Regions from separate parts of the Homo sapiens genome. Here region 1 is linked to region 2. Evidence: fine-mapped expression QTL. A gene starts in region 2. The other region holds a variant in brackets. All regions are shown on one strand. Distances are from middle to middle.

Region 1 (16,446 bases), 130 kb after region 2:
CTAAAATGTCTAGACTAATAAAATGTCTCATCGAGCTAAAACCTGAATATCTGACAAGTTCTTGACTTGCCCAGCAGGCAATTTTGTTTCTCAGAAAATAGAGGAAGTAAGCCGGGAAATTGCTACTCTAGACCTAATTCTGACCAACATGGACAAATTGACTGCTGAAGTCGATGTGACATGTGACAGGCGAGAAAATGGCCACATCGGCATGAGTCTGTGGTGACCTGAGAGGAGAAGCTGGAAACAAACTTTAGAAATACAAACCTTAAGCTACTACACTGTAATACTTTCTATATGATTCAAGATGCTTGGTAACCCTTAAAATCTAAATAAAAAAAAAAATGGCAGCTCGCCAAAAATTAAAATATACTCTATTTAAAATGAAATATGCTTAGTAGAGTCAGACTTCAGGAAGTATCAATTTAGTACAGTAACAGAATATGTCTGAAAAATCTAAAATTAGGTAGTAGGATTGGGGAAACATAAGATTTAAAGTTTTTAAGCATAACTCCTACAACCTAAGCTGTCAGTAGAGAGATCCAATTTAAAGTAATAATGCTAAACTACGAAATTATAGCAACCAATACTACAGTAGTGCCTTTTAGAGGGTGGTTTCATGAAATGCGTAGATGATGACTGAGGGCTGGCGTTCCACAACCCATAACAATGGGAGGCCCTCACTTGAACATCTCTCAGCTTAGTGCACCTTTTCTGAGTTACAACCCAGCCATGCCAGAAATACACAGCTCCTGAAACCAGGACCTTGTATCCTCTGAGCTAAAAAAAAAAAAAAAAAAAAAAAAGTAATCTGAAATAGATTCAGTTACACAAGAGAAGGGTTTGGGGTTTGGTGTAATTATCAAAACAAGCTTTTGAGACTCCGTTTCGGATTTGTGTTAACACAGAACCAAGTCTCTTCACTTTATTTTGGCCCATGGACACCTCTGAAAATCTGATGAAAGCTATGGACCCTCTGCCTAAAGAAACACACCTAGCATGCAAAATTTAGCAAGCAATTTCAGAAGACTCATAGAGTTCAAAAGGCTGACCATGAACCAGTTTAAGAATTCTGGTAATATAGATGTAAGAAAATTGCCTCCAAGAACCCTAGCAAGACAGGCCCACTTTGGCTAAGTGGCGTATGCTCTTGAAACTTTCATTCTCATCCTCTAAAATGAGGACATTAATAGTTTTTAGCTGACAGGGTTGTCGTGAGGATAAAATGGGATACTGTGTTTCAAACTCTTAGTACAGTACTTGGCACATAGTAAATGCTCAAAGTATACCAACAAATAATAATTATATTATTAATAATAATAATAAAATGATGGCATTTTATTATTATTAATATTTTTATTATTATCATTATTATTGGTGAGACCTATAATTTGTTATAATACTTTTCTTTAGCAGAGTGAGGTTTGTCCAGTATTTTATAAATGATTTCCTGCCTTGTGGGTTTTAGTTAAATATACAAATGATAACAGCGAATTGTTTTAAAATGTGCAGCTGAACTTACGTAATTCCAGGGTTATTGTCTCAGGTCTTAGAACAGGAGGGTATTTGGTGTAGACAGAAGGGTAGAAGAAGAGTCTATTTTCTCCCTTTTCCTGGGTACAGGCACATTTAGAACAAGAGCAAAATTTGTCTCATGAACCACATTTGGGATTTTAAAAAAACTCTCACTGATCTAGTAACTGCAACCTTTGGGATTTCAGTATAAGTTTTGCCCTGAACCTGCAGCATTTTGGCCATTATTTTGCTGCACAAAATGAGTGACCTAATTTCCTGGTGAAGCCCAAATGAAGGGTTTGGATAACAAACAGATTAGATATTTGGCATCTTTACAAACACAGTTAAAAGATTGAATACACAACAGAACTTAAAACAAATAAAACTTGCTCTTGTCTCCTGGGGCCCCAGAAGTTCTCCTCCAGACAGACGTCAGACTTCTCCCAATTAGAGCCCATCAGAAAGCCATCACATAGCAATTAAAACACAAACAAACTCACCCAAAGAATCTCCCAAGGACCATTTGCCAGTACCATGCTGTGTCCAGCTCCAGAACTGACAAGGCTGGGTTTGTAAGCTTTGCAGGCATCCCAACACTCTCTCTCTCTTATATAAGTTGCTTTATGGAGTCCCCAGTGCCTTCACATTCACTCTCTCCTCTAATGTTCATGAGGACCTTGTGGCATATGGTTGCTCTCTGTGTGCCAGGTAAGTGGGCCTGCCTCAGTTTCTCCACCTCGTTCTGCTTCCACCCACCCAGGGAGGGCCTTTGCACTCACTGTTCTCACTGCCTCCTCAATCTTCCTGCCCTTTTCAGCCTCCCACCTCCTACTCATTTTCAAGGTCTTGGCTTGAAATATCCCTTTTTAGGGGCACCTTCCCTGGCTTCCCAGACTAGAGCAGGGGCTTTATAACACATGCCCATTGTTCAAAACTTTCTCTGTGCAGCACTTGTCACAGCTTGTCATTGAATGTTTACACTTCTATTTGGCACTGTTGGTTTCTCTTTCCAGAGAGTGAACTCCACCAGGACAGCAAGCATGCTTGCCTCACTCATCTCTGAATGCCCAACATGTAGCAGAGAGCCTGGCACATAGCGTGGCCCCCAGTTTGAGTGGATCAATGAAAGACGATGATGTTATCCTCATTTTACAGGTGAAGCAAGAGATCCAGAGAAGGAAGCCACTTCTCAAGGTCACAGCCTATTAGTGGAATTGCTGACGCTTGAACCCGGGAGTCCTGGCTCTCAGCCACTTCTTTACACTCCTGAGCTACCCAGGAGCAGGGTTTTCTTGCCAATTCTGGGGGATATCATATTGAATCCTGGTGTCCCCACTTGGTGAGGGTGTCCAAGGCCCAGATCTCAGTGGTAGCAGAACCCCCACAAGACACTCACAGCCCAAGTGAGCGTGACTCTAGCACTGCTTGGCCTGGTCCCCCTCATTCCAGGATCACTTAGCATCCTTTCAGGCAGGTCCTTGAATGCCCTGCAATTACTCCCACTCTCCCAGGAGCCAGGAGAGGGATGGGGATAATTAATGAGAAGGTGACAGGCTCATCTTCATTACTAAGAATATCTCCCACCCTTGGAGGCATTTCCACTGTAGGTTTAATGGTGCATTCTCTCTCAGGATCACAAAGCTATGCACTTTACTTCCTTGCTTAACTCTTTTAGCACCTGTGGGAAGTTGGAAGAATGAAAGCACTAACCTGTGAGGCTGTGAGCTCCATGAGGGCAGGGCCTTTGACTGATTTGCTCACTGCCACACCTTCAGTTGTGAGAACAGCAGCGGGGACACAGTAGATCCTCAATAGATATTTGCTAAATGAATGATTGAAATGGGAGCTTCCCATGTGTCACGAAATTACTACACCTATATCTTATAGCAACTGTTCTCGGTCTATTTTACATATTAGACAGCCAAGTTTCAGAGAGTTACGAGACTTGCCCAAGGTCAAAAACTTAGTAATCAGTGGAGCCAGGATCCCCCCTGAGGCACTCTGGGTGAAAGCACCCAACAGGGAAAGATTAAGATTAGGAATTCAGGCAGGGAGGCAAAGACGTGGTTTATTCTAGTGATATCCAGGTAGGGATGAGAATGGGAGGGCAGTTTCAATACTAGGAGGTTTGTTCACCAGGGAAGGAGGAGAGGAATATTGTGCAACAAATTTTCAAGCCAAGTGCAAACTCCAGGTTCCCATGGTGGTCAGGATGAAGGCAGGGTGCAGGTTGCTGAGCCTCATAACACTGGTTCCTGCAGCAGGAATCACTCAAGAACCCAGGCAATGAGGGATTGGTGTGCACAGGAAGGGACAGGGACCTGAATATCAGGCAGGGCCTGGGTCCCAGGGGTAAAGTGGAAAGAACCCTGGAGGGGAGACGCAAGGCCAGGCCCTGCTCTGCCCTGACGCACTCCCATTCTCACACAAGTCTCTTCTTTTCTCTGGGTCTATTTTCCCCATCTCTACAATGAGGGTTGGCACTTTACAGTTTAGAGTGACTCTGGGATCCTTACCACTCCAGCATCAGTTCATATAAGTAAGTAGACAGCATCTTAGAAATGGTCACTTTGTTTAATCCAACATAGGAATTCCTGCTCCAGGATTCTTAGCAGATGGCACAAGTTTCTGTTGGGTAGCTCTGGGCCAGTGGTTCTCCACTGAGGATGATTTTGACCCCCTAGGGACATGTGGCAATATCTGAGACATTTTTGATTGTCAGTGGGAAGAAGCACGTGGTTGGCATCTAATGGGTAGAGACCAAGGATGGTACCAAATACCCTACAATGCACAGGACAGCCCACAGTGTCACCAGTGCTGAGGCTAAGGAACTCAGCTGTAGGCACAGGGGGACTCATTGCATCTTGAGGGAACTCATGGCTGTGGGCATTGTGGCTAGGACAAGCTGATACTGACACACTCCCTGTAACTGCTGCCCTGGCCTTAGATCTACCTGGAGGAAGGGCCCTAATTCCTTCTCAAGATGGCTATCCAATCACAGCGATTCCACCAATGACATTCACCTGTGGAGGGAGTATGCATGGGCCAGGGTCAGGGCTGAGGGACAAGTGCCAGGAGCACAGGACCTTAGGGAGGAGGCCAACAACTCTCATACAAGCTGGAGGGGACCAGGGGCAGACAGAGGGCTGTGGGGATGGGGGAAGAGAGGACTGTGTTAAATTGTGGGTGGGGTTGGGGAAATCCTGGGTGCCTATGAAGCATGTAGTGACTGAACTGGGCCTCAAATGATAGGATTTCCAAAGAAGGGCACAGGAAGACAAGGGAAAGGGCCATGAGTTCATTTTAAGTCCAAACAAAGTCTCTCCACAAGGCCCAGCCCATACACCCTGCTTGCCTCCTGGCTGCATCTCACTTCTGTCTGCGCCCTGGCCACACAGGCTCCACTTGCCCTTATGCACTCGCCATTTCTTCACCCACCTCAGAGTCTTGCAGGCTCTGTCCTCTCATTTTGGTGCATCCTATTCCACTTTTTGTTCAGTTGCTATGGTCTGGATGTTTTTGTGTCCCCCACATCCATATGCCAAAATTCGAACCCCCAAGGTGATGGTCTTAGGAGGTAGGGCTATTTGGGAGGTGATTAGGTCATGGACCAGTGTCCTTATAAAAGAGGCGCCAGAGAGCTGCCTTGCCCCTTCCACCATGTGGAGACACAGAGAGAAGGTGCCATCTCTGAGAAAGTGGGTCCACATCAGATACCAAATCTATTGGACCCTTGGTCATGGACTTCCCAGCTTCCAGAACTGTGAGAAATAGATTTCTGCTTATAAGCTGCCCTGTCTGTATCTCAGTCTGCTGAGGTTATAACAGCCCAGATGAACTACAACATCAGTTAACACCCACTCATGGTCTGGATCTCAGCTCCTGGCCCTTCGTCAGGGAGCCCTCCTGGGGCTCCTCCTACCCCGTTATGTGCTCTCAAAGGCCCACACTTCTCTCCTTCATAACACTTACCACAGCTGATGTTTATTTATGTGATTATGGATTAATGCCCATCTCCTTCAGGGGACTGTAGGGCTGGGTGAGCCTCACCATGGACGCTGGCACAGAGCCTACACATGGCAGGGCTCAAGAAACAATCATTGAGTGGATGAATAAATGATCAAAAGTTAGCTTTGGTAGCTTAGGTGTCGGGTATGTTCAAGGCTACAAAGGAAGCCTGGGACCTTGGCAAGATTTTAAATGCTAGGCTGAAGTGTTTGTAGCTAAATAGGCAGACAGGGAGGGGCTCTGAAGAGCAGGGCAGTGCCAAGAGCACGTGATGCCCTGGGATGGTGGGCTGGGCAGAGGGTAGAGGACTGAGCAGAATCTGGAGACTAATTAGGGGACTGTTGTAAGAATCCTGGGGTAAGAGGGCTGGGAAGCAGCAGATGGAAAGCAGCCCTGGTTAGCTTTGTGGGGACGACTGGCACTCCTCATTCCTCTGTGTGTTCTGAGAGTCCCTGGGAAGCCCTGAGCAGCAGCCTGGCATGATGCTCTGAGATGTGGGGAGAAGGAGGTAGAGTAGAGGCTGTGATGCTATAGACACTTTGCAACCCAGGCATCCCTCTGAGGTTCTCTGACCCCTTGGGCCTGTGCAGCTCAGCTTCCCACCCCCAAGGCAGAGCCAGGAGAGTCTGCTCAGAGCACTGCCAGGGAAGCAGTCCAGCTGGGCAGCGGGTGGAGGTGCACAGAGACGGAAGGCAGATTACATGTCACTTCATATTAGCCACACCGGCAACCTTCCCAATCCACCCAGAGAGGGGCCAATTAATTGCAATTCTGAGGACAAGGCAAAAGCCAAGATAACACTGAACCTGAAGCCAAGATAACACTGAACCTGAAGATCGCATCTCCTTTCCAGTCATGAGCAGGTCGGAAGGCCTTACAGAGGGTCAGATTTACTTACCTGTGAGGTACATTTCCTCTCCTTCGGTGAACATCTGGTGGCAGCGTACACACCTGGCACAGGTTGGGTGGTAGTGCTTCCCTCCTGCCTATGGAAATGAAAAGATGAAACAGGAGGTCAGAGCCAGGGCTGCTGTCTAGTGGGGCAGATTGGGTTTGAATCTTTCCTGGGTACATTAGTGTTGTTTGCATCTTCATGGCCCTAAAGTTGGTTGGAGCTACCCAAGGGAGTCCACAACCATCTAAAAGACCAGCCGGGAAGCTTCGTGATTCACTCCATGGATCCCTGATGGCAGTTCAGGGGACTTCCCTGAATACCTGCTCTTCTATTCTGACACTGGGAAGGACACTTGAGAGGCCACTGGTCCAACTTCCTCATTTCCAGAGGAGGAAACAGGCTTGCTTTGAGGACATCCCAGCATTTCCCCAAGTGAGAGGCCCTTACCACTAATGTTACATGAAATGATTTTAAGTGGTACATGAACTTGGGATTTAATAACATTGGACCAATGGAAAAAAAAAAAAGATCTTTTCAGTCCTCTATACATTCTTCTGATTTTGTCAAGGACGAAGTACCAGTTCGGTGCTTATGTGTCTTTAACATCTATCCAAAACCTACAAATCTGCCTTTTAAAGAATGAGAACAGGTGTGAGGCTTGGAACCTCCACATGCAATAGAATCTAGCTAGAACTCTATTTATTTTCAGGTTACATGCAATATGGCAAGTGATACTGCTTTCCTGTTATGTCGTATATAAGTTTCCTTACATATAAGGGAGCCAACCTCAAGACACTTAAAGTATTATGGAAGAATCAGCTCACGAGGTTCACAGACATGGCAAAAATTGTGAGACTGGCACACAAAGGACAGATTTTTAGGGCTCAGTGGGTGATTTAGGACCCACTGTAGAGCCCCAGATCCCCAGGCCAGTCCTGTGACTATTTTGCCCTGGTGTGTCCAGCCCTACCGCAGCTCACCCCAGTGTGACTTTGGTGAGTGCCTTCCCTATTTTCACTTTCCTTCCCCATCACTATTTAAATTAAAAATGAAAATAATTTGCAGCTGCAAAGACTTCCATGGGGGGAAGAAACAGCCCCTGAGAAGGTTGTGCCTCAAGGGTTCACTGCAAGCCAGCAGCAGTGTTGGGTCCGGATGTGTGTGAGTCAGTCACCAGCTCAGCACTTGCTTCTGGAGTCACAATTCTAACACCAAAATCCCAGCCAAGAGGGCTTGTAAAAGGGAACTTCAGCGGCGGCTCCAGCATTTGTATATGCAGGAGCTTGGTGCAGCAATTGGGTTGGCAGGTGGGCCTTGTTTGAAGAAATATTTTGCAACGTCAGGGCAGGGTTTTCTTTGGGGGAGGGTAATGCCCAGGGGAAACTGATGGATGTTAGGGGTTCTTAAAGGTCCCTGTCCAAGCCATCACTTGATCTGATGCTAATGGGTTCCTTCCAATTCAAAAATTATAATTGCATAATAAGAAGACCTATTTCCAAACTTAGTTTTTTTTTTCTTTTTTTTTTTATGTGGGGGGAGTGGAAGATTGTTGGGATGGGCTTGCCTATTCTGGAGATATTATCTCTATTCTAAAAACTTAGCAAGAATGTGGGAAAGGCAGATTTTTACAAAAAGAAAAAAATCTCCAATATTCCTTTTTCCCCCCGTTTGTTTATATGGCCTCGCACCAATGAGACAGTGTCCTTGTCATCATCAAAGCGAATATGTTCAAACTTTGGAAGGAGCCTGCTATTTTCCTAAGCTGGAATGTGTGGGACTGATTCCCTTGTACCATGACAAGGATAATCAGTTTAATTAGCAGCCTCTTCCTACTCTGTGTCTCTTTATCATTTTGATTATAGACCTGTTTTCCAGTGTGGCAACAGTGCCTTGGCAAAACTGAAGCCTAGCATTTTCCTAAATGTCATGCCCCACTACCTCACCCCAGCTGAAAGAGGCTTTGTGCCCATCTCAGCAGCCCCAGTCTTGGATGGTGTTGAAAACAGTTTGAGCAAAGGGAGGTAGGGCAGCCTGCACCCAGAGTAAGGAAAAGCCACGTCAGCTAGCTGAGATGAACCATTTTGTCTATTAACGAACTGAAATCAGGAAAATAGTAAAGAAAAATGGCAAAAAATTGGTACCCTCAAAACAGAGCCCTATTTGAGAGGACCGAAAACAGCAAACCAGGTTCAAAAATGTAGCAACAAGCAAACCAGGTTGTGGTCCTTTTTGGTGAGGAAACAGACAGGGATGGAAGGAGTGACACTGACAGCCATTGAGCTCTGTCACTGAGGAAGGGACCATGGGGTGGCCTAGGGAGGAAATGGGAAGGGACAGGATGAGAAGAGAAGGAGAAACAACTTAATTGAATGCCTGCAGTGTGCCAGACGATGTGCTTGGGCGACTGTTGTTCCTGCATGGCCATCATTCTTTCCTCCTTCTTCCAGAAACAGTCCCAAGCCTTTCCTTGGTGGGGCTACCTCTTCTCCATATCAGTCCACAGGGTTAAGTAGTGCTGACCCCACCAATGAGCATATTCCAACTTTGTGGGCACAATTAGTGGCCCAGGGATGGGCCTGAGATTGTCCAATGAGAGTCAGTCCCAGAATGCTTGCTGAGCTATTAGAAAAGAGAAGTTCTTTTTTCCACCGGGC[G/A]TGCCGGCTGATAGAATCTAAGCCTGGGGCAACTGGTGTCCAACTTTCCCATCACCAAGAACGCCCTCCTGAGAATAAACTTAACTTGGAAGAAAGTAAGCCAAGATGGCTGGGGATTCTAAATGATTTCGCTTAAGCACTGGATCCAGCTCCTGGGCTTTTTGTTATAGGAGCTGAGAAACTTCCTCTCTGTTGCAGCCCAAAAAGTCTTGACTAACGTGTTCATTAGGAATTAAATGACAGTAGTATTGTCTGTTGATAGATACAGACTAAGAGGACATATCTTGCTTAAGGCTTCAGGGCTAGAAGTGGTAAAATCTGAATCCAAGTCTGTTTTACTGCAGCCATGTCTATTTCCTGACATCATGCTACCTCAAAGACCCCCAAGTGGCTGAGAGCTGTGGGTATCGGTAGATACAGCAGCCTGGAGTCCTAGATTTTAGCTCTGTCTCTACCAGAAATGCTGCTTGTGACCTTGGAAAAACACTGCATGTCTTGGTCTCACTTTTCTCATCTGTAAAATGAAGAGGTTGAACTAGTTGATTGCTAAAAGTCTCTTCCAGCTCTAAGAAAAAAAAAAAATCAATAAGTCGAAGATGCTAATGGAGCCTTGTAGAAATGGGATCAATCGAAACTCAGTCACAACAGCTGCCTGGGAGGAACAGTCTACCGCAATGCTAAACAACGGTAACTCTCGGGGAAACGGCAGCTGCCACCAACAGGATTTCAAAGCAGCTTGGAAATGCTGAACAAATTTCCATCTGTGGCCCTGTCTGTAATCTAAGTTCTTTCTTTCTGGAAAGAAAAGTTTCCTTTTGTAATATCTCCCACCGCATTGACCCTTCAACCTACTACACTCTGGATGCCTCTTCCCCACAGTTCTGCAAAGCCAACAAACGACTCTTCTGAAGGTGACCTTTCCCACATCCAACAGCTTTTCCGCAGCCCACGCAGTCCTTCACTGCTCTACAGAGTTTGACCAACACTCTGACCTCACCATGTTTTCTGAAGCTCTGTCCTTTCACTGAATGCCCGATTCTCTTCCCATATCTTCCTCTGCTACCTCCTCAGTCTCTTTCTGAGTCGCTTTCACTGTGAGCAGCTGCTCGCCAAGGTTGGTGTCAGCCTCCTTCCTTGCTCTCTTTCCTCTGTCTTGGAAATCCTGAGGACTCTGGTGGTGCTATTATTCAAAGCCTCACGTTTTTAAGATTGGCTCCTCCAGGCCTGAGCTTTGTTCCTGAGCTCTGATCCATATTTCTTTTCTTTTCTCATTTTTCTTGCCTCGGACAGGATCTTGCTCTGTTGTCCAGGCGGGAGTGTAGTGGTGCAATCTCAACTTATTGCAACCTCCACCTCTCAGGCTCAAGTGATCCTCCGGAATGGCTAGGACTACAAGCGTGCACCACCATGCCTGGCTAGTTTTGTTTATTTTTTATAGAGATGAAGTCTCACTGTGTTGCCTAGGCTGATCTTGAACTCCTGGACTCAAGTGATCACCCTGTGTTGGCATCCCAAAGTGCTGGGATTACAGGTGTGAGCCACCACTCCCAGCCTCTGATCCGTATTTCTGACTGCCTTCTGGAAACACTCCTGGGATTTCAATCACAACTCATCCTAAATGGTACTCGCCATGTTTCTGCCAGATCAGCTTTTTCCCCTGTCATCCCCAGTTCTGCCAATGACACCAGGCTTCCTATCCCTCAGAAATAGATAATTCTTTGGTGCAACTTTTAGCTGCTTCTCCTTCAATCCCCATGTCCACAAGCTGCCCCTCAGTTGCAGAGTGATTGGAATTCTACTTCCATAGGGCTGGGCACAAGGGTGGCTTCCCTCTCCATTGCTACTGTACCTCTTGAGTCCTTCCTGCCTGGGTCACGCAGGGGCCTCCTCACTCATCCCTTCCAGCTTCCTTCCTTCAAATGTAGCCTGTGTACATTATCACGTCATCCTCCCAGAAGCCCAGCTCTAACCAGGACGTTCCTTCCCAGTCTCTCCACAATGCTCCCTTGCCCAGTGAGTCACATGCAAACTCCACCCTGGTATCCCAGGCCCTCAGAAACCCACCCCCAACAACCCTTCCTGGACTCATGCCTTGTCCTCTGCATCGCACTCCTTACAGCTCTCGAGATGCTTAAATGTTTCCCAGCTCTGCTCATTTGTTTATATCTCATTGTCTCTGACTCTCTCTGAAAATTCTCCACACAGTAACCACAGAAATCTTTTTAAAAACATGATCTTATCATGTTAGTCCTTGGCTTAAAACTCTCCAATGGCTTTCCATTGCACTGAGTATAAAACCCAAACTTCTAAACATGGTCTACAAAGTCCTACATGGTATGCCATATATGATATACTCTTATATTTCATCCTCCCCTACCCTCAATTTATAGAATTCAGCCACATTGGCAGACTGGGTCAGCTATTGTGAGCAGAATCATTAATTCAGCCAAATCTGGCCACTTGGTTGTGGTTACCATGAGTGCTTGTGTTGAGAAAAATTCTGCAGCCACAATTCTGTGTGGGTTCTCTGTTCTTTGAATGGGTCAAGCTCATTCTTCCTCTATCTTTTCCCACCTCAGGGCCCTTCAGGGATAGTTCTTTCATCCTCAGGGCTCTGCTTCAATGCATGTCCTCAGAGAGTTCCTTCCTGGTTGCTACATCCCCTCCTGCTGAGTCTACATGTGGCTGCAGACTTGTTCTCAACAAAGCACTCATGGTAACCACAACCAACTGGCCAGATTTGGCAGAATTAATGATTCTGCTGACAATACCTGATCCAATCTGATCCTCTAGCTATTGTCATATGGAAAAACTGAGGCCTAGAAAAGCAAAGATACTTACTCAAAATCTGAGCAGGAGTAGAGTCAATACTAGAACTCAATTATTCCTGTTAGGCTATTATTTTTCCTTTCCACTGAGCCCTTCCCTGTTTCTAATTCATCAAGGTGGGTGGTCCCAAAGTATAGGAAGATAGCTTCCAGGCCCACAGGGTATAGGAAGAAAGGCCGGAAAGACCAGTGCACAGGGGCTCAGCAAGGCCTCAGCAAGGGTTTTGCAGGTTGTCTGTCACTGCAGAAGGAGTCATACATCAAAGGCTGGGGAGAGGCGTTGCCATGGTGATGGACCCACCAAAGAAGGGCTTAGGGAGCAAGCTGCTAGACAAGCTGGCTCTTAAATCAGCACATTACCAAATACTAAAACAAACAAACAAACAAAATAAATAATTAAATAAATAAATAAATAAATAAATAAAAAAGACTTCCTTTCTCCGGCAGGGCTGGGAGGAAAATCCTAATGTCACTCTTTAGAAATCTGTCTGGGTCCGAATCAAAGATACAACTGATTTTCCCAGCACAGCATTTTTTGAACCAGGAAGAATTTTGTCTACCTTCTCATTTTGGGGTTTCCCAGAGATCTCAGCAAGGTTATCTGCTCAAGGTCATGTAGCAAGCAAAGGTGGAGGAGGTAAAGGCTATGGAAAAAAAGGTATGGGATGACTTTCTCCTTCTTCTGTGATGACTTTTTGGAGGCACAGATCACCCTGCCACATCTTCACGGTTACTTATACCCACTCACCTCCAAGACTCTGCCACTGATGTATCGGTCACAAGTCTCACATTTAATGCCAAACTGGGCATGGTAGTCGGACTCACAGTATGGAACACCATCCCTGCAAGAAGAAGTTCACATAGGATGAGGAAGTTAGGGAGGATCAGTGAGGGTGCACATGGCATTTAGATTCTGGACCTGCAGCCTATGTTGACTGAGCCAAAGTTCGATACTTCTCCTTTAATAAACAATTTCATCTGTATGAAAGAATCATCTGACTGTGCTCCCAGATCAGTAGATGACAGGAAGCCTCCTGGGACCACCTCCTGTGTGCTCCATTTTTTACCCAATGTTTATCACTTGGCGGACAGTGATAAGATTGTTATCCCTTATTCTTATACCACCCCCTATGACTAATAGCCACTAACATTTGTTGCTGGTGTGCGCCGGGCTCTTTGATGGTGTTTGATGGCAACCCTATGAGTCAGAATTATTAGTATCCCCATTGTGTAGGTGAGAAAACCTAAGCATAGCACACTTTAGTAACTTGTCCCAGGCCACCCAGGATGACCTAGAGCTGGAATTCAAACCCAGGTTGTCTGGTTTCTCACCCAGGTTGTCATGAGGATTAAAGGAGATGGGTCCAGTGTACCCTAGGGCTCAGGACAGTGCCTAGCCATACTGAGTACTCAGCAAATGGCAGCTGGAGGAATGGCCATGATTGCTGAGAGGAGTCTTTGAGGAGGACATTTGGTTCTCAGTTCTCTAGGACTGAGGTAGAGATAGTTGGGGGCATCGGAGAGCTTAGCTTTGCTTCGGGCTCTGCCTCGCTCTAATGACCAAGTCTGAACTCTGAGGAGAAACATTTCTTTCACTTTTGGGTGTAAGAGAACTTGGCTCAGACACTGAGAGACCTAAAGGAGAGGCACATCACTTTTCCATCTCGAAGCTGTTGCCCTGATGAGGTTGCTGGGGGCCCACCCTGGGCAGCATTTTCCTGGAGAAGCAGCAGTGAGGACCAAGGTCTGAAGATGTCCGACCAAGGTCTGGAGGTGTGACTGTGCCCACAAGGCAAGGACTTGTTTGTGAGCCCCTGAGACACACCTCCCCCAACCCTTTCAACTCCTCCCTCCTCCCCCGCTCAATCAGGTTCTCACTCTGTGGGTGCGGGAGGGTAGCTCTGCAGGGAGAAAAAGTCATTTGTCAGAAGGTGGATGTGATGAGCCAACAAGATTTGAGTATAAATGCCAACACAATCTCTTTTGGATCCATCCTTCTCTTGGGGAATTAGCGGTACACAATTCTAAAAGAGGATGGTAAAATGAGTATTTACTGGGCAGTTATTGGGTGCTAAGCACAGATCTCTGAGCCCTTACACAACCCTACAGGTAGATCATCTTCTCTCCATTTTTATAAATGAGGAAACTGAGACTCTGAGCAGTGGAGTCCCTTGCCAAGGTCACATAGGCTGCGCTTCTATCCTGGGCATCTGATGCCTGAGCCAGTGCCTCTGAGCCCCTGCCACTCTGCCAGCAGCCAGGTAAGGGGCCCAGAGCTATGCTGCAGAGGTACCAGGTGTGGTGGGCAATCTGGGCTGGGCCTCCTTGAGAGGAGCTCTGAACAATCCCTTAAGTCCCTAGAGAACTCTGATTTAGGCTTCCAGACTCAAGCACTCCTGGCTGGCAATGTACTAAGGGCACTCCTTGCTTGGTGGGCATAGAGGGGAATGCCAAACTCCTGCTAGCATGGCATCGAGAGCTCTCGGTGATGTGACCTCAGCTCACCTATGCAGCCCAGGATCTGGCTTCACCTGGGCACATGTTTGAGCTCCTATACAGGATGGAGATGTCCAACACTCCCCTACTGCCCTGGCCTTGCCCAGGCTGGCCATTCTGCCTAGAAGCTCTTCTTCTTTGCATTTTTGAATCTTACCCCCACCTTCCATGGAACTCTCAGAGATTCAAGATTCTACTTCATGCTAGTTAGCAGTCATCCTTTTTTTCTCTGAATATTCACAGCCCTTTATTTGTTATCTTGGACACAGGCAGGTGTTGTTTGGCCAGCATCCATTTCCCCTTCTGCTGATAATAGTACCTCGCCTGGATTTCCCTTTGGAAGCCACCCCTTCCCAGTTGAGGTCCCTGTGGGTCACAAGAGGCTGCTCTCTGGCTCTAGGGTTCAGATCCTCTGGGCCAGTGATTGGTCAGGAATGGGCATGTGGCCTAACAGTGGCCAAATCAGAGGCAGACCTGGGACTTTTGCTGGAGTTCCTGGGAAAGAGGCCTCTTTTTCTGCTAGGCTTGGTATGGAAGCCTGGAGTGTTGGCAATCTTCTTTGCTAGCACTTGGGGAGGGCCAGATTGAGAACTAATCCACCATGAAGACAGCAGAGAAAGACAGGGACAGAGACAGAGAGAGACAGAGAGAGAGAAAGAGAGACAGAGAGAGAGAAAGAGAAATTGAGAGAGAGAGAGAGAGAGAGAGAGAGAGAGAGAGACAAAAAGATAGATAGAGAAAGACAGAGACTTCTGAAGTACTAATGACATCCTTAAGCCCCTGGATTCCTCCATGTCTGAAGCCAGTGTGCCTCTGGCCTTCCCATTTCTGTGAGTTAATAAACTCCTATTTTTGCTTTTAATTGAGTTGGAGGTGGGTTTTCTGTCACTTAGGATCAAAAAGGTCTTAAAGAATAAAGCTTGTCTGGGCTCCTGATCACACATTTCCTGGTGTCATAATTCTTCATGAACGCAGCATATCTGTTTCCCGTATTAGACTGCAGGGTCTTGACAGCAGAAGCATGTGTGCTGCAGCTCTGTGTGCTTGCCACTGCCTGGCATCAGGCCAGAGAGTGGCACCTAGAAGGGTCTGGGGTCATATGATGTCAAAGCTGTGACAAAGGATCTGTGCTGATAATTACTTTTAGGTACTTGAGTATATAAATGTGGTCACTGGGGCCCAGCAACAAGAGGACACTTGTCTAATACTGCAGTGTGTGGGTCACTGGAGGTTGGCCCCTCTGGATAACTATGCACCCATCACCTCCTCTCATATCCATTAAATTCATTCAGCAACTATATTATTGACTGTGGGTCAGGTGTTGCTCTCAGGGCAGGGGATATAGCAGTGATTAAAACAAAGCCCCTCTCCTGGTGGGTACAGAGATTAAACACTATTACTGGAGCAAGTTATTTACTCTCTCAAGTCTGAGTATTCAGTGGGGATAAATTCCTCAAAGGGGCAGTTATGAGGATTTAAAGTGATACTTCATACAAAGTAGTGAGTTCCTTCTACATAATTAAAGCTCAATAAATGGTAGATAGTATTATTAGCATTATTACAAAGTTACCAGGGATAAATATGTAATTACCAATGGTGGTAGCCTGTGTGAAGGAAACAACAAGGTACTCTGAGGGCCCAAAACGGGGCAGTAAATGAGAGACGGCCGGAGGGGAAGGCATGGGGACCGAGACCAGAAGGGAGAGAAGGGGCAGCAGGCGTGCAAGGAACAGGGAGGGTGTCTCAGGCAGAGGGAAACCCCCCCGGGAGGGTCCAACGGGGGAAAGAGGCTGCTGGGAAAGATGCTGTTTGGCCAGAATGCAGCAGCAGACGGAAAGGAAGGGAGATGATGCTGGAGATGTAGGCATGGGCTCAATGGGGCAGGCCTCACAGAATGCAGAGGCCCAGGCAGCTGGGGCAGGAGCAGGGGGACCCACTTGCTGATATACTCCCCGGTGAGGATGACGCTGCAGGTCTGGCACTTGAAGCAGCTGACGTGCCACTGCTTGTCCAGAGCCAGGAGTGACTGGCCGTGCTTGATCTCCTCCTT
Region 2 (16,446 bases):
CAGGCCTGTGAGCCCAGCACTTTGGGAAGCCGAGGCAGGTGGATCGCCTGAAGTCAGGAGTTCAAGACCAGCCTGGCCAACGTGGTGAAACTGTCTCTACTCAAAATACAAAAAATTAGGCGTGGTGGCAGGTGCCTGTAATCCCAGCTACTCGGGAGGCTGAGGCAGGAGAATTGCTTGAACCTGGGAGGCGGAGGTTGCGCTGAGCTGAGATCGCGCCATTGCACTCTAGCCTGGGCAACAAGAGCAAAACTCCATCTCAAAAAAAAAAAAAAAAAAAAAAGGCAGAAATAGGAATCCAGATCTAAGAAATATGTAGCAATCAGAAAGAGGCAAGTCAAGGAGGAATAAAACAGACAAGACTTCAACACGGAGGCAGGGTGGGGAAAGCCCACAGTGCATCCACTTGGCTATGCTGCTATGAGATCTCAAGGTACCTCTCCAGAGCATCAACAAGGCAGGTCAGCAGTCATGAAGTGACCATAATGTTCCATATACAATACGAATAGGCAGACAAAGACTCTAAACACCAGAGCTGCAGTTATTTCAATTCAGGTTTTATTAAAGTTGTTTCTGAATATTTTTTCTCAGTGATCCTTGTTCTGATGAATATTACATTTCATCCTTAGTTTTGCTCATTTGATTTTGCTTTAGTGTTTAAAGAACTTTTATTTATCAAATCCTTTGCCATGAATGAGAGCACCAAATAACATATCAATACCCAACTGCCTGATTCCTTTACAGCAGTAAGAAAAGTCAGTAAAACATTTGTACAGTCCAAGTACTACAACACCAAGATCCCCTCTTCAAGTGAGAGTGAGCCAAAGCTTCCTTAGTATCATCTCAAGTCAATGTCTTTTCACTATACCATTAAGATGAAAATAACTAAGAGCACTGACACAATTTTCTTGCTCTTTCCATCTAAAAATGTGGGTTTCCTGTGGTGTGGCTAATTTTAAAAACCAGAAAATGGAAGGAAAATAAGTCAGTGAATGATTAGCTTACAAGTTTTTTCTACTCATCATTAACCAGTCTTCCCTTTTCCCTAGACTTTAGACAGCCATAAAAAGGCAGGAAAAACAATGTGCATAATAAAAAAATAAAAATAAATATCTGAGCACCTACTGTAGTAGGCATTTAACACATTTCACTTAATCCTCACAACGCTGTGAAAGAATTATTATAATCATTTTACGAATAAAGAAACAGGCTCAGAAGGGTGAAATCACTGGTGCCTAAAGTCCTGCAGGTGACTGAGCTGAGATTTAAGTTCAAGCCTATGCTCTAATATGCTGCTTTGGCTCCCCAAAGCCCTTCAGCTTGAGATTCTTACTACTATAGCTTCATCTTCTAATTCTAAATTTACACTTTTAAGTCTGCAAAACTACTGAATAACAAAAGAACCTAAAATTATTCTGAATTTACTTGCCAAAACGGGAGGTGTAATAGACCATTAGAAAATTCTTCTAGCCTGGACAATATAGTGAGACCCCGCCTGTAAAAAACAACCAACCAACCAAAAAAAAAAAACCAAAAACCAAAAACCAAAAACCAAAAAACAAAACTAGCCAGTCATGGTGGTGCACTTGCCTGTGGTCCTGGCTACTTGGTAGGCTGAGGTGGGAGGATCACTTGAGCTCATTAGGTAGAGACATCTCTTTAGGTAATCATAACATTCCATACCTAAAATTATTGTTAATTGTAATTAATGTTAATTCTAACTGGTAATGATAGCTAGCAATAAAAAAACACACAGAGAGTAATTACAATCAGCTCATTTTCTTATTGTCACCATCTGTCAAATCTCACAGAATGGAAGGCAAAAAAAGACAACTTCCTATTGTGAACCTTGATTGTTCATTAAATTTACAATATATACTTAGTGGAATGCCAAAAGATGTTCTGGTTTTACAAGCTTAACCACCAGTCTTTTGATTGCATTTTAAAAGTGCATATTTACTTGTTTTTTAAGGGTCTAAATCTGATGAAGATGGTAAGGCCCACAAGGAGATGGCTTTATTGATAAGTTTGTGTGCTGTCTTAGAATTATCTATAATGTATAAGAGGTTAACTTTCCACCACTCCACTGAATGTCATAGAGTTCCAGTGGAAAATGAATTTTATTTTATTTTATAACTTCAACCTAAACCTATATAATCTAGACATCCAACAACATCTGATTGTCTGCTGGAGACTTCATTGCATGCCCATTAATCTTAAATGGAGACTTAATTGCATGCCCATTAATCTTAAATGATTGACATTAATATCTAGTTGTTCTTCATTCATACTCTCACTGGAATTTAGTCAATAGTTTAGAGATTATTTTCCTTGTGTCCAGTCCTAAAAAGACTAGATTTTCATACTTCAGAAGCAGAAAGGGTGAGATTTGATCATTAAGGCCTCTTCCAACATTAAAATATCCATAATTGACTGCCTTCCTAAAATCTGACTGATGTATCATTCATTAAGTCGTTTATTGGACAAATCTTTTACAGAACACCAGCTATAAGACTGAAAAAAAACCACATAGGCCCATTAATTCTAGAGGTTAATATATAAAAGGTGAGCTCAATGTTTACACAGATGTGACTTAACAGATACAAAGAATAGGAAATAGAGCTTGTCAATATAACAGAGGTAGTGATTTGTGAGTACCAACTTAAAAAAAAAAACAACAAAAAAACTTTGCGGGCGCAGTGGTGAACGCCTGTAGTCCTAGCTACTTGGCAGGCTGAGGCAGGATTGCTTGGGCCCAGGAGTTGGAGGTCAGCCTGGGCAACACAGGAAAAAAAAAAAAAATTGCCAAGAGGAGAGAATACTTATGTTAAGTGTTCTTATCGCAAAAAGTAACATAAATAGAGCCAGAGGAAACTTAAAAAAAAATTCAGCATTAACTATTAATAAATGAAATGAGAAATCATGGGAACCTAACACTTTTGTCCTGATCACCACCTCCCATCATTTAATAAAGGATTATAAGGTAAAATTGACAAAAGGGCAGAGGAGTAAAGGCTGGTGGAATAAGTTGTAGGTAAATTACCCAAATAGAGCCATCTGGGTCATTAGCTGTTAGTGTTGCCTCAGTTTGCCTGAAATGATTATATGACAAGGAGGCTGAAAATAATTTGAAGAGCAAAGACAGCACAAGGCTTTTTGGCCATTCTTGCTTGAAAGGGTCCTGGGTATCTCAAATTTCGATGCTCCTTGCCTTCCAAGTCTCATCTAGACCTTTAGCCCCTGCAAATGGGGATGAGAAAGGGGTGGGTATGGGACAATGATGTGAGCATAAAGCCTATCTAGTTGGGATTACAAGAACAAAAGATGGCTAAAAGGAAAAAAACAAAACAAAAGGTAAAGTCCTGAAAATCTATGTGTATAAAAATCAATCCAAATGATCTAAATTTATACGACCACGAAGCTTTATCCTCTAAGTACCCAAATGTTGAACCAATCCCTACCATCTCCTTTTTCCACAAAATACAAGATACTACACAATTCCTGTTATAGAGACCGCTAGGAAGAAACATGTAGTTGAAAACCCATAGTTAAAAGGATTTTGGATTCAAATTTATCACAGTACCAATTTTCCTAAACATGTTTTGATAAAGGCCATTGGAACACCTGTCACACTGTTCAAATGCCCAATGGTAAGACTTCTGATGAGACCAAACAGGTCACATTAAATCAATAGAATATCTTAGAAATAAAGCCAATATGACTAAATCCAAAACATATCACATGAAGTACCTCATGTACAATACAAACCTAGTTTAATAAATAAAAGAAACATAGGTGACTGCGCTCTGGGAGAACATCCAGTTCCTGATGGCCTCTTCACAGTCTTCTCTGAGACTCCACTGCCACTTCCACTCGGGCAAGCCTAATGGTGCGGCCATGAAGTTTGTAGCCATCTTGTCTTACTAATGCCACGGTGCCAGGCTGCACCCCAACACCAGCTGGCACATGACAGATGAGTTCATGCTCATGGGGGTCATATTTGTCACCAATGGGTGTCAGTTTCTCCAGGCCATGCTTGGCAAACACACTTTTCAGCTTTGCTTCTAAAAGCAACAACCCTCGGAAGACCTTCTCCAGAGTGAGCTTTTGGTCCTCAGGCTCCGATTCTTCAGAAATGCACTCTGTAGTCTTCTCCAAAATGTCAGCCACCTCCACCAAGTCCTTACAGAAACTCTGGATTCCTGCAGAGAAGCCAGTTATTTTTATTGTTTGTGAGGAAATCACTCTGCCCGTGGGCATAGAGTTTGGGTAAGGCCTAGATAGACGGCTAGTATGCTGAGTAGTCCAGCAAGTGGAAAGGTTGCCACACAGGACTCAGAGATCATCACTGATTACCACCCCAACCCAACTGACAAGTCAGTGTCTCTCTCAGAAGGCATATATGACTAGGAACTTGACTAGGAAATGGAAAAGACAGAACCCAAGAACTAGGTAAGACTATACACAACAGGCTTAAACCTGTTCTTTAAAAACAACTATTTTTATGTACATGAATTTTTGTTGCTATTTGCTTGTAGTATTATGTACATTTTGAAAATTCCTGCCTGTCCCAGTTGTGCTATGGCATACATTCTCAACAGGGACAAGACATTAATATTTCACGAGAAGGGCACTAACAATAAAAAAAGAAAGTCAACAACACTATGCTAAGGGGTGTCATGAATGGTTTATTCTTGAGGACTGGCTAAATAGGAACACGAAAGTAAGACACAGCCATAGATGAGGTAAGTTGGCTATGAAGTTGCTAGAGATGGACCACAAAACTTGTCTGATTTTTTAAAAGAGTCATACGAACTGTTACAAGACAAAAGTAAATTCAGTTGTTGAGAAATCCCATTACGCTCAATTCTAAAACTTGATTTTTCTTACAGAAATGAGGGCAAGAAAGTCATCATTAGAGAGGTCTATGACACGATACCAAAGCTCCAGTGGGGGCTGGTGAGAGTCAAGGACTTTGTTAATCTGACTTTAATCCAGGGACAGGCTTAAGGCCTTGTGTCAAAACAGGCTAGGTCTTTGACTTTGAAGTCAAAGACATTTTTCATTTTTTTTTTTGAGACTGAGTCTCATTCTGTTGACCAGGCTGGAGTGTAGGGGCATGATCCTGGCTTACTGCAACCTCTGCCTCCTGGGTTCAAGTGATTCTCGTGCCTCAGCCTCCAGAGTAGCTGGGATTACAGGCGCCTGCCACCATGCCTAGCTAGTTTGTATTTTCAGTAGAGACGAGGTGTCATGTTGGCCAGACTGGTCTTGAATCCTGATCTCATGTGATCTGACAGCCTTAGACTCTCAAAGTGCTGGGATTACAGGCATAAGCCACTGTGCCCAACCAAAGACATTTTTATTGTAAATAAATCTCTCACCAAATATCTTGGCGTCTTCCACACATCTCTGGGTTCGCCTCCTTATGTTTTCACAATCAGCTATAGCTCTCTGGTATCTCACCTGAATATCAAAAGCAAAATCAAAAGGATGAGAAAACAAATACTTATTGGTGGAAGAGAATGTTTTTGCTTACTTTACAAATTTCACCCTTTTGATAGGTTTTTATAAAACAAACTAGGAGTTACAGAAATCTTAGATCAGCTACTCCAAATCCCCAGTCAACGCAGAAACCCACTCTTTAGCAGCACTGCTAGGTAGTCATTTAGCCTGACAGTTCAAACTCCTAACGGTTTCAAGTTCATTATCTTGAGGAAAAGCTTTCTTTTTCACATTCAGCCAACACTGCCAACCTCCAACTTCCTTTCATTGACTTGAACTTAAGGATAACTGAGAATAAGTTTTAAAAGTATGTCATCTAGGCAGGGCACGGTGGCTCACGCCTGTAATCCCAGCACTTTGGGAGGCTGAGATGGGCGAATCACTTGAGGTCAGGAGTTTGAGACCAGCCTGGCCAACATGGTAAAACCCTGTCTCTACTAAAAATACAAAAATCAGCCTGGCATGGTGTCAGGCACCTGTAATCCCAGCTATTCGGGAGGCTGAGGCAGAAGAAGCACTTGAACCTGGGAGGCAGAGGTTGCAGTGAGCTGAGATCATGCCATTGTACTCCAGCCTGGACAACAAGAGTGAAACTACGTCTCATTTAAAAAAAAAAAAAGTATGTCATCTATTTGGAGGCAGTTATTTTACCCTCTTTAGTCCTTTTCTCTCTCATTCTTAAGACAATTCGTGGTTCTTTCAATTGCTGTCATAAGGAATGCTTTCCAGCCTCCTTACCATTCTATCTAGGTGGTTTTGCTTTGGAATTCCTCTAGTTTATCTATCTCCCTCTAAGTGTGTCTATCAACCCAGGACTGGGTCCAGTATGCCAGACATGGTCTCATCAGCAAAGAACAATGGTCAGTGACCTCACTCATTCAACAAATATTTATTGTCTACTATATTCCAGGCACTGTACACCTCCTTTAATCTGCTGAAACATCAGATATCTAAGTGCTGTGACATAACAGGAAACCGAAAAGAGATGACTATCTTTAGCCAGTGGTGTTTTTCAACTACTACAGTTTTTTTCTGCCCAGTATACCTAGCAAGGAGTGGAGGAGGGATGAGGGGTAGCAGATAAAGAGCCAATTAAAGAAAACTTCATTTTGAAAATTGACATAAAAAACTTTATGTGGATATTTAAACTAGAGAGAGGATATGAAGAAGAAATATAAAATTGACTCACTGTTAAATCTTGGACTTCTTTCTCCAGTTTAACAGCTTTTACCCTTAAGGCTCGTTCAGCAAGAGGGGGCCCAAGCTCATCAGGAGGGTCCTCAGAACGGCAGTCCTCACCAGCAGTTCTCTGGGTGGCAGTGCTGAATGGAAGCGGCCATCCCCTAAAACAGGAAGGAGGTGGCACATAATGAAGAAATGCCATCATAAGCCAAAATTACAACCAAGTTTAGAGACCAGAGATCTTCCCAGATGGAATCTCTGGAGAAAGTGTTTTCAGTTATAGTAACAAATGAACACTTACGAAGTCCTTACCATGTACCAGACACTGTTTTACTTGAGTCATCTTTTCCTCTCACAACAATATGTGAGATAAGTCCTATCATTATCCCTATTTTACAGATGAGAAAACTGATGCTGAGAGGCTTAAGGCATAATGGCCTGCTCAAGATCACATAGTTGGTATTCCGCTGGGTCAGGACACTAAGAACCAGGCAGCAGAAATAGCCAGAACTGGGTATACAAAAGTCAGCATAAGGAAACCAAATGCTAGTACCCAGAACCAGAGGAGCATTGTCAGAAGTGGGCATTCAAAAAGTCATATAGTTCTGGTTCAACCTTCTAACTTACAGATGAGGGAAATTAAGTCCAGTAAAGGGACCTTAAGGCTTAGAATTCTAAGCCTTCCTCACCACAACCTGTAAGGCTTTTAGGAGACCTGTGCTGAGAAAGAAATTCCCACCTATAAATAAGATCAAGTCAATGAAATACTTATACAATACTATATGTTACTGCCGGTGAATAGACACAGGTGAAAATAGATCTTTGCATTCAACTAGTTATGTAATCTAGAATTTTGTACAGCTAAACTGTTTTGACATTTAGTTCAGTTTACACAGAAATAAATTTAGACTAGGGGCTAGTTTACAGCAAATCTTGGGCTGTGGCAGTCCTGACCTGGCCCAGTTCAAGGAAGTTTCCACTGCAACTCCTGGATCTTCGTAATTTGACTGTAAGTAAAATTATCTTGAAAATCAATCTGTGAGTACATGAGTTCTTTAAAACAATTTTTATGGACTGGCATATACTGTAGAGTGGTCCTCACGGAGACAGCTGAGCAAAGGCTTAAAGAGGGTAAAGGAGTCAGCTTTAGAAAAGGGAAGAGCATCCTGGGCAGAGCAAATAGCTAGTTTAAAGGTGTAAGCAAGAGGACTTTTATCTCTCCTACTTTCCAAGCTGATCTTAAATTCAATTATTATAATCCGGTGTGTGATTTTATAGACAGTTCCACATTTTGGGGTCAGAAAATATGGTCACCGTAGATCTGGGGCTAATTACACACGGTGAAACATCTTCTCCCTAAAAAAACCACATTTATCCACTTGAAAAAGCAGGTCAAAATATTCTCAGGGGCCGGGCGCGGTGGCTCACGCCTGTAATCCCAGCACTTTGGGAGGCCGAGGCGTGCGGATCACGAGGTCAGGAGATCGAGACCACGGTGAAACCCCGTCTCTACTAAAAATACAAAAAATTAGCTGGGCGTAGTGGCGGGCGCCTGTAGTCCCAGCTACTCGGGAGGCTGAGGCAGGAGAATGGCGTGAACCCGGGAGGCGGAGCTTGCAGTGAGCCGAGATTGTGCCACTGCACTCCAGCCTGGGCGACAGAGTGAGACTCCGTCTCAAAAAAAAAAAAAAAAAAAAAAAAAAAAAAAAAAAAAAAATTCTCAGGGCCAGTTCAAAGGGAAAATGGCCAAAGCTTAGACCAAGAAATAGGGTTGGGGAGTTGTGGCCAATCTCAATTCCTACTGCTTCAGAACTGGAGTAGGGAGACAGCTTACCAGAAGGAACCATTTTTCTTCTGGTCATTTCCTTACATCACCAACAAGCTGCCAAAAAGACTTGAGAACGGTAAGCAAAACCAAGTCCCGAAACCCTGAATGCAACCTCTCACTTAGGTGCTAGGGTAGGATGTTGGGTCAGGTGTGTTAAGGTAAAAAGGGTGACATATGTAGTTAAGCACATTTACCAGATTCTCCCGTAGCTTACTTTACTATTCAGAGGTCCAACCCTACCTCGTACTCAACTATTTTTATTCTCTATCCCAGGAAGAAACAGTGTAGGGGCAACAGTCTCTGAGAAAATTAATTAACATCGCTCATTAAATAAGAGCGCCGATTCCAACGCCCTGACTGGTTTCCAGCCCGGGTTCCACCACTTCCCAAATATTTAAGTTTGGAAGTTACTCAACTTTTCTAAACCTCACTTTCCTTAACTACTAAATGGGTAATAATAAAAAGAACCACCCATAATTCTGCAGTCGGCCTCGTAAGCGACCAATAAAAGCTGCCGATGGAACTTGTCTTCCGAAGGCTGATGCAATGGCCGTTTGGAGAAACAAGTTCAGCGGCCTCCTTTTACTGACAGGTACAACAGTGCCCGGATAACGGAGAAAGGACTGGCCTTAGGTCACACGGAGTGAGGGGAGAGAACCCAAATTTACCCACAGGTACCACAGGCTGGGAGAAGAGGCCGGGAGAGTGGTACATCCCTCCCTTGGGGGCTTAAGAGACTTCTCACCTTCCAGGCCATGCATGACCTCGGATCTCCTTACCTTCCTCGGCCTAAGAAAGAGGCACGGCTGATGGCCTCAGTTTCCCCGTCTGTAAAATGGGGCCGTGAGTGCACGGTCGTAGAGGCCGAGAAGCTTGGTCCCCTGGCCTACGCTCAGATAGCTCTCGCCTTCCAGCCCACAACCACCCCGGCTGGCTCGCTAGCCCCTCAGAGTCCTCACGCTCCCGACTCCCCGCCTGCAATGCTTACTTGCTCTCCCACGCGGCACTCCAGGCCAGTAGGCGCTGCACCCGCAGCCGGCCCGCCCACAGCGACCGTACGGCCATGTTTCCAATTTGGGCTGAGAGGCAGCGCACGCGCACTTGCTGCGAGTGAAGAGATGCTCCCGCTTAAAAACCAGCCTTTGCGGGCGTTTCCCTCTCAGGACTTCCGGACAGGAACGCTATGCTTCCGGTTGCCCGATGGGCCGCGCCGTTCCCCATCCGGTCGTCCGGAGCTAAGGCAACACTTCCGGCTCTCAGTGTGTTCCGCGGGTAGGCGAGGTCCTAGTAGTAACTACAGTCTCCGTGCTGGGCGCAGGGTCGGCAGCAAAGAAAGCAGATCATAGCTGTGCCCGCATGGAGCTTACTTGATATTATGAGCGATAAACAGATACAAGCGGGATGTAAAGTCAGAATATGAGCGGTGTTTGAAGGTGAGGGGCAGGTGTCGCGGAAGCCTAGAATAGAAATCTAGCCTTGTGGAAAGTTTTCCCAGAGGAAGGGGGTATTTGAGCTGAGCTGAAGAAAGGGTTCAGGCAGAGGGAAACATCTGCAGAAGCCTAATAAAGAGAGAAGAGTATTGCATGTAAGGGACTGAAATATACTGAGGCGGGAGGGCAACAGGACTGGTGGTTAGGAAGGGCTAGATCACGTGAGCGGTTTAAAACATCGCAGCCTGAACCATTGCCCATCACTCCTCCCAGTCTTTTTCTCTAATGCCCTTCTTATCGACTGAATTGTTTTTTTAAATAGTGTGTATTTTCTCATTTCCTCTCACTAAAATATAAGCTCTTTTAAGGCAGAGATATTGTCTATTCATTCCCATTGAGCAGTGCCCTAATGTAGGTGTTCAAAATTATTTTTTTTGAGATGGAGTCTCACTCTGTCACCCAGGCTGGAGTGCAGTGGCACGATCTCGGCTCACTGCAACCTCTGCCTCCCAGGTTCAAGTGATTCTCCTGCCTCAGCCTCCTCAGTAGCTGGGATTACAGGCGCCCACTACACCCGGCTAATTTTTGTATTTTTAGTAGAGACAGGGTTTCACCATGTTGGTTAGGCTGGGCTTGAACTCCTGACCTCAGGTGATCTGCCTTCCTCAGCCTTCCAAAGTGCTGGGATTACAGGCATGAGCCACCGCCCCCGGCTTCAAAAAACTTTTTTGCTGAATGCAATTTAGTCTGATTCTGATTGCAATGGAATGTGAAAATAAATAAAACCTAAAAGCTGTTGGAACCTCCCAAATACTTGAAGCTTTGAGAGAGATGTGGCTGTGGTCTGAGTCCATGTAGCATGTTTTGTAGTTCTGCTTCTTAGAATTATAGCTTAATTCTCTTCCTCATTGTTCTTGTTCTGTAATGACTAGGAAAGAGCAGAGACCAGATTTCTTCCCTCTCAATTACTGATGTTTGTAATAGACAGCCTCCTTTATTGTCCTGCACCTAACTCAGACTAGATGGTGCCCTGAACTGAACTGACCCCATGACAGTTACATCTGCAGGATGTGATGTTAAATGTACCTTTCTTGAAGGAAAAAGACCACCTTAACTACTCAGATCATTGTAACTGTGCATTAAGCCTTGCATAGAAAGATGTTGAAATTCTGTTAAACCTCACTGAACCCAACCTTTCACACTTTGGAACACTGACTTCCATCTTTTTTAAGACAGACATATTTTTCCATTCTGTGCTTCCTGGGCAGGCCATCCTCAACCTTTGTGCTTGAATAAACTCTCTTTAAACTAGATTCTGACCTTTTAAATTATTTTAGATTGACAGGGAACATGTGACAAAGGCTTTCATGTTTAAAGAGTCACTTTGACTGCTGTGTGAAGCAGATTGCAAGGTGTAAGAAAAGAGGTAGGGAAGGCAATATGTTGCAGTAGCCCAGGCAAGATGGGGCTATATTCTGTCCTGGAAGAACAGAGAGAGACCTTCCTAACCACTGTAAAGTAACTGTGTCCAGCACCCTTTTAGTTTCTTAGTATTTTATTTCTTTTGCTTCCTTGTTAAGGTTTTTTCCTCCAACTAGAATGTGAGCTTCATGAGGTGTCTGTCTTGTTCACCACTGATTTCTGACATCTAGTATAGTAGGTACTCAAGTATTTGTTGAATGACTTAATTAAGTTGGATAGTGTCAGTGAAGATAGGAAGATATGGATGAATTTTAGAGATTTAGGATGGAAAGCTGACAGACTGAGAGGATGGATTGGTGACTGGGGTCCAGGGCACTTGGAGTTGCCAGCTTAGTTACTGGATAGTCCCTTAATTTTTTTTTTTAAGGGAATGGGAAGTGTTCCTTGAGCACTCTGAATCTTGTCATAACATGGGTTATTTGTACTGTAGTTATTTGGGTCACATTTTCTTTCCTGCTTGTCTCTGAGTTCCATGAGGACAGAGCTGGAGTATTTTCATCTTTTTATCTAATCCGAGGTCCAACTCAAATGTGTCATGACCAATAACTTATATTTTCTTTTTGGCCTTATGAAAAGGGTGATATGGTTTAGGGAGGTATTATGATTCTCTTTTACATATGAGAAAATTGAGGCTCAGAAAGGTTGGTAAACCTATGCAAGATCCCGCAATAAGGAAACAGTGACAGTAGAATTCTGACAGACTGAACACTTGGCAGTGTTGGGCTTAGACCTGTGGCTTACACTTTGAAAAAACACAACCAAATAAGGCATTTTTTTTTTTTTGAGATGGAGTCTTGCTATTGCCCAGGCTGGAGTGCAGTGGTGCGATCTCGGCTCACTGCAACCTCCACCTCCCGGGTTCAAGTGATTCTCCTCCCTCAGCCTCCCAAGTAGCTGGGACTACCGGCATGTGCCACCGTGCCCAGCTAACTTTTGTATTTTTGATAGAGATGGGGTTTTGCCATGTTGGCCAGGCTGGTCTTGAACTCCTGACCTCAAGTGATCCACCCGCTTCGGCCTCCCAAAGTGCTGGGATTACAGGCATGAGCCACCATACCTGGCCTAAACAAGGCATTTTAACAACCAAGAACAAGTGGCATCTGTGCCTTAGCCATTTTGCTTACATTTCTCCTAGCTGCCTAACGTTCACCAGGTTGCTGCTTGCATCCATGCATTCATTCGTCTATTTATTAAGTGCTAGTGTGCTTCTGAATGTTGCAGTACAAGGGGAGGGAGATATATGGATGACATAGAGCTTTAAAATTAAGAATAAGGCTCTAGGGTCAGACTTCTTATATTCACATGCTGGCTCCACCAGCATGTAAATATAAGAACTATGGGAGCTTGGACAAGTTACCTGACCTCTGTGAGCTTCCATTTCCTGAACTGTGAAAACTAGGGCAATATAACTTATCTCAGGGTTTCAGTGAAAACTAAAGGGATAATACCTAGAAAAGTGGTTAGTTAGCACCAGGACTGGCTATCTAATTTAAAGGGCAAAAGGAAAAGCAGAACTCCTTGTTCAAATATGATTAAGAAGGCAATAGTAGAGCATTAAACCAAGAACAGGGCCCTTCTAAGCATGGGGCCCTGTGTGACTGCACAGGTTGCATGCCTGTGAAGCTGGCCATGGCTGACACAGTGCCTGACATATGGTGAGTGCTTGATAAATGTTAATTATTAATTACCCCCAGCCACTCCTCTGAGAGTTCATCTGTTGGTGAGAAAAGACACTTAACCCCAAAATAACTGCATAAGAAAGAGTATGACAGACACTGAAGACATAGTTGGAGAGTTAGGTGACATTTCAGGATCCACGTTTTAAAAAAGAACACTGAAAAGTAATTTCCTCTTCAGTGGAAAGAACACAGGCTTGTGAGTCAGACATTTCTGATATAGCTAATAATAGCCACTTTTTTTTTTTAATAGATGGGGTCTTGCTATTTGCTTAGGCTGGAGTGCAGTGGCAATTCACAGGCGTGATCATAGTGCACTACAGTCTCAAACTCCTGGGCTCAAGCGGTCCTCCTGCCTCAGCCTCCTGAGTAGCTGGGACTACAGGCGAGTACCACCATGCCTGGCTAATGAGAGCCACTATTGACTGAGCATTTCTTATTTCTCAGACACTATGCAAGATGCCTACTATATATTATCTTATTAAATCTTCCCAACAATCTTGGGAGAAAAGTAACAATTGTTAGTCCCATTTCACAGATAAGGAAAACAAGAATCAGAGCAATCAAGTGACTTTCCCAAGGTCACCCAGCTGGTCATTAGAGGCATGGCTCAAACCTAGCCCTATCTGGATCTGGGCTTATAACCCCTAAGTCCTACGCTCTGCCACTAATCAGTGGGTGATTACTGGTCAGGTTATTTTTCCTGCTGTGGTCTCCAGCTACCTCAGAGGGTGATAAAGTTTGAGTGAGGCTAAAGTCTGTAAAACCTTAGGTGGGTTAAAATATGTAACCCCTATAGCAAAGTGGCCACGGTTATTCTGGGATTTTCCTTCTTTCCTCTTGAGCTAAGCACTGGCACTTAAGAGTTAAGTGGTTTTATCTTTATTGGAAGGAAATGTGTTAAAGACAGACTCACTACAGTGTTGAGACAGTAGTGAGTAGCACAGTAAGGAGACTGCCCAGGACTTGAGGTCCTTGGTCCCTCTATAGAAGTATCAAGTGTTTGTAAAAGGTTTAGCACCCATGTGACAGAAAGAAGCCATCATCCTCTTAATTTCTCTTGGTTTTACTTAATATATAGAAGGGCAAACTAGTGGGCCTCTGAGTGCAAGATGAGGACTTCATTAGAATAAAGACATATTGCCTCCTGGATTTCTAACCCATAGCTCCAAGAGCCTCAGTGTCAGAACATAGGTAAGGGACTTGATTTACTGAGAGACCCTACCCTACAACATCCTGTGGACATTAGAGCTCTGTGCTCCTGTCACTGAGTATCACTGTGAGCTTAAAATATGTCAGCTGCTCCATTTCTCTTTCCTTTTGTGTATTCAGAGCTCTGATTTTAAAACACTGAAATCTGGAAGATTCCAGTAGCTGCACTCTGTCTAAAGCATATGAGGAATGACTGTAGAATTTGCATGTCCTCTATAGCTTTTGTTCACATGTATGCAGGCAGGGATAATGTTATTGATTGTTCAACCTATTTACCTTGACCAGGGGTTGTTAGTAATGCCCAATATGAATCAAGTTGGCACAAGTGTGATCAGATGATCAGGTCTTGTCTCTTTACACTGCACCACCAATGCTTCAGCACTGCCTCCCTTTGCCTTAAGGACTGGGAGTGCGATGCTGTGAATGGGATGGAAGGGGTTATTCACATGTGCTTTCATTACTTCTTCCCTTCCTCAGAAGGGAAGGCAAAGACATCTATAAAACCTTTACAGCTGTGCAGACTTCTGTATCCCTCCATCCTCATTTCCACCCTTTGTAAAGTCATAAGGATGCTCTCCATTTCCCTCTTCCCTTCTACTTGTTCCCTCCCCATATCCCCTAAAATCATGCAGACAATAAAGGCTGGTATTTTGGGTGCCCTGGAGAACGAGGGCTACTTCCTAGTCTTCTCTTGGTGTCTCCTTGTGAAAAAAGCATTTCTTCCTCAGGTGGACAAGCTGGTATTTCCTTTGGAATGAAATCCTCATCCTCTTCCTAGGTCTTCTTCATTTCCCATTCCTGAAGCACAGAAAGAGAAGACAAATCAATTTGCTGAATGGTCTAGTGTGACATGGATAAAGAGATTTCACGGCACCTAGTTAGATGAAGATCTCCACTAGCCAGGTTGCGTTGGGTTCTAACCCCCTCTCTCTCTTTCTGTGGCCCTGAGTAAGTCACTTCTCCATGCTGGTATCTCTTGTCCCTTCATCCATTCTCAACATAGTTGCCTGAATGGTCTTTAAAAAATGTAATTTATATCCAAAACCCTTTGCTCAAAACCTTCCATCATGTCACAACAAGATCCATTATGTTAGAACAAGATCCATGGTTCCTCAGTGGCCTGAAAGGCTTTAGATGAAAGGCTGGTAAATGATAGTCTGTGGGCCAAGTCTGGCCTATTGTCCATTCTCATATAATCCATCAGCTCCTATTTCTAAATGTTTGGAAAAAAAAATCAAAAGAAGACGACTATCTCATGACACATGAAAATGATACGAAATTCAAATTTCAGTGCCTGTAAATAAGTTTTATTGGGCTAGGTGCCGTGGCTCATGCCTGTAATCCCAGCACTTTGGGAGGCCGAGGTGGGCGGATCACGAGGTCAGGAGTTCGAGACCAACCTGACCAACATGGTGAAACCCCCCGTCTCTACTAAAAATACAAAAAAATTAGCCGAGTGTGGTGTTGTGCACCTGTAATCCCAGCTACACAGGAGGCTAAGGCAGGAGAATTGCTTGAACCTGGGAGGTGGAGGTTGCAGTGGTTGCAGTGAGCCAAGATCATACCACTGCACTCCAGCCTGGGTGACAGAGCGAGACTCCGTCTCAAAAAAAAAAAAAAAAAAAAGCTTTATTGGGACACAGCCATTTTCATCATCATTTTCATATTGTCCATGGCTATTTTCATGCGACAATGGCAGAGTTGAGAGGCTGTGGAACAGATCATATGGTTCAGAAAGCCTAAACTATTTACTCTCTGGCCCTTTACAGAAAAAGTTTGCTGACTGCTGCTCTAGATGATCTGGCCCCTCACTGGTTACTTCTCTGATCTCATCTCCTAATGCTCACTCTTTGTTCCTTTCACTGGAATCACCTGGATCTTCTTGATGTTCCTCAAACATGCCAAGCTTTTTCCCACTTCAGGGACTTGACACTTGCTCTTCTCTCTGCCTGGTTCGTCCTTCCCTCAGCCCCCTGCATGGGTTTCTCCCTCACACTCCATTCAGGTCTCTGCCTATGTGTCACCTTCTTGAAAGGGTCTTTGCTATCACTGTGCTTAAGCCCCTTTGGGACGTTCATCTTCTCTGGCATCACATTCTTTATTTATGTGTGGTATTTAAAGTCTTGTCTTC

What was found. PIP is the estimated chance that this variant, and not a neighbour inherited with it, causes the effect. A credible set is the group of variants that fine-mapping cannot tell apart.
Region 1: its variant is the best candidate, but not a certain one, in a credible set for the expression of GRPEL2 in whole blood (INTERVAL, PIP 0.70).

The regions. Positions count from the first base shown.
Region 1 is chr5:149,207,022-149,223,467 of GRCh38, reverse strand. ABLIM3 (actin binding LIM protein family member 3) reads right to left here. Exons shown (of 24, transcript NM_014945.5): 6 at 16,334-16,446; 7 at 12,649-12,742; 8 at 6,422-6,509. Among named protein-coding and RNA genes, the nearest start is that of AFAP1L1, 57 kb to the left of the region's middle. The variant G/A (reference allele first, on the strand shown) is at 9,073.
Region 2 is chr5:149,338,674-149,355,119 of GRCh38, reverse strand. It overlaps GRPEL2 (GrpE like 2, mitochondrial), which reads right to left and starts at 9,621. Exons shown (of 4, transcript NM_152407.4): 1 at 9,504-9,621; 2 at 6,695-6,848; 3 at 5,385-5,466; 4 at 537-4,202. The coding sequence starts at 9,580. The coding sequence ends at 3,838. It overlaps AFAP1L1 (actin filament associated protein 1 like 1), which reads right to left. Exons shown (of 19, transcript NM_152406.4): 19 at 11,483-15,113. The coding sequence ends at 15,090. It overlaps GRPEL2-AS1 (GRPEL2 antisense RNA 1), which reads left to right. Exons shown (of 2, transcript NR_132366.1): 2 at 6,722-7,004. RefSeq lists enhancers at 7,664-8,164, 8,689-9,312, 9,313-9,938.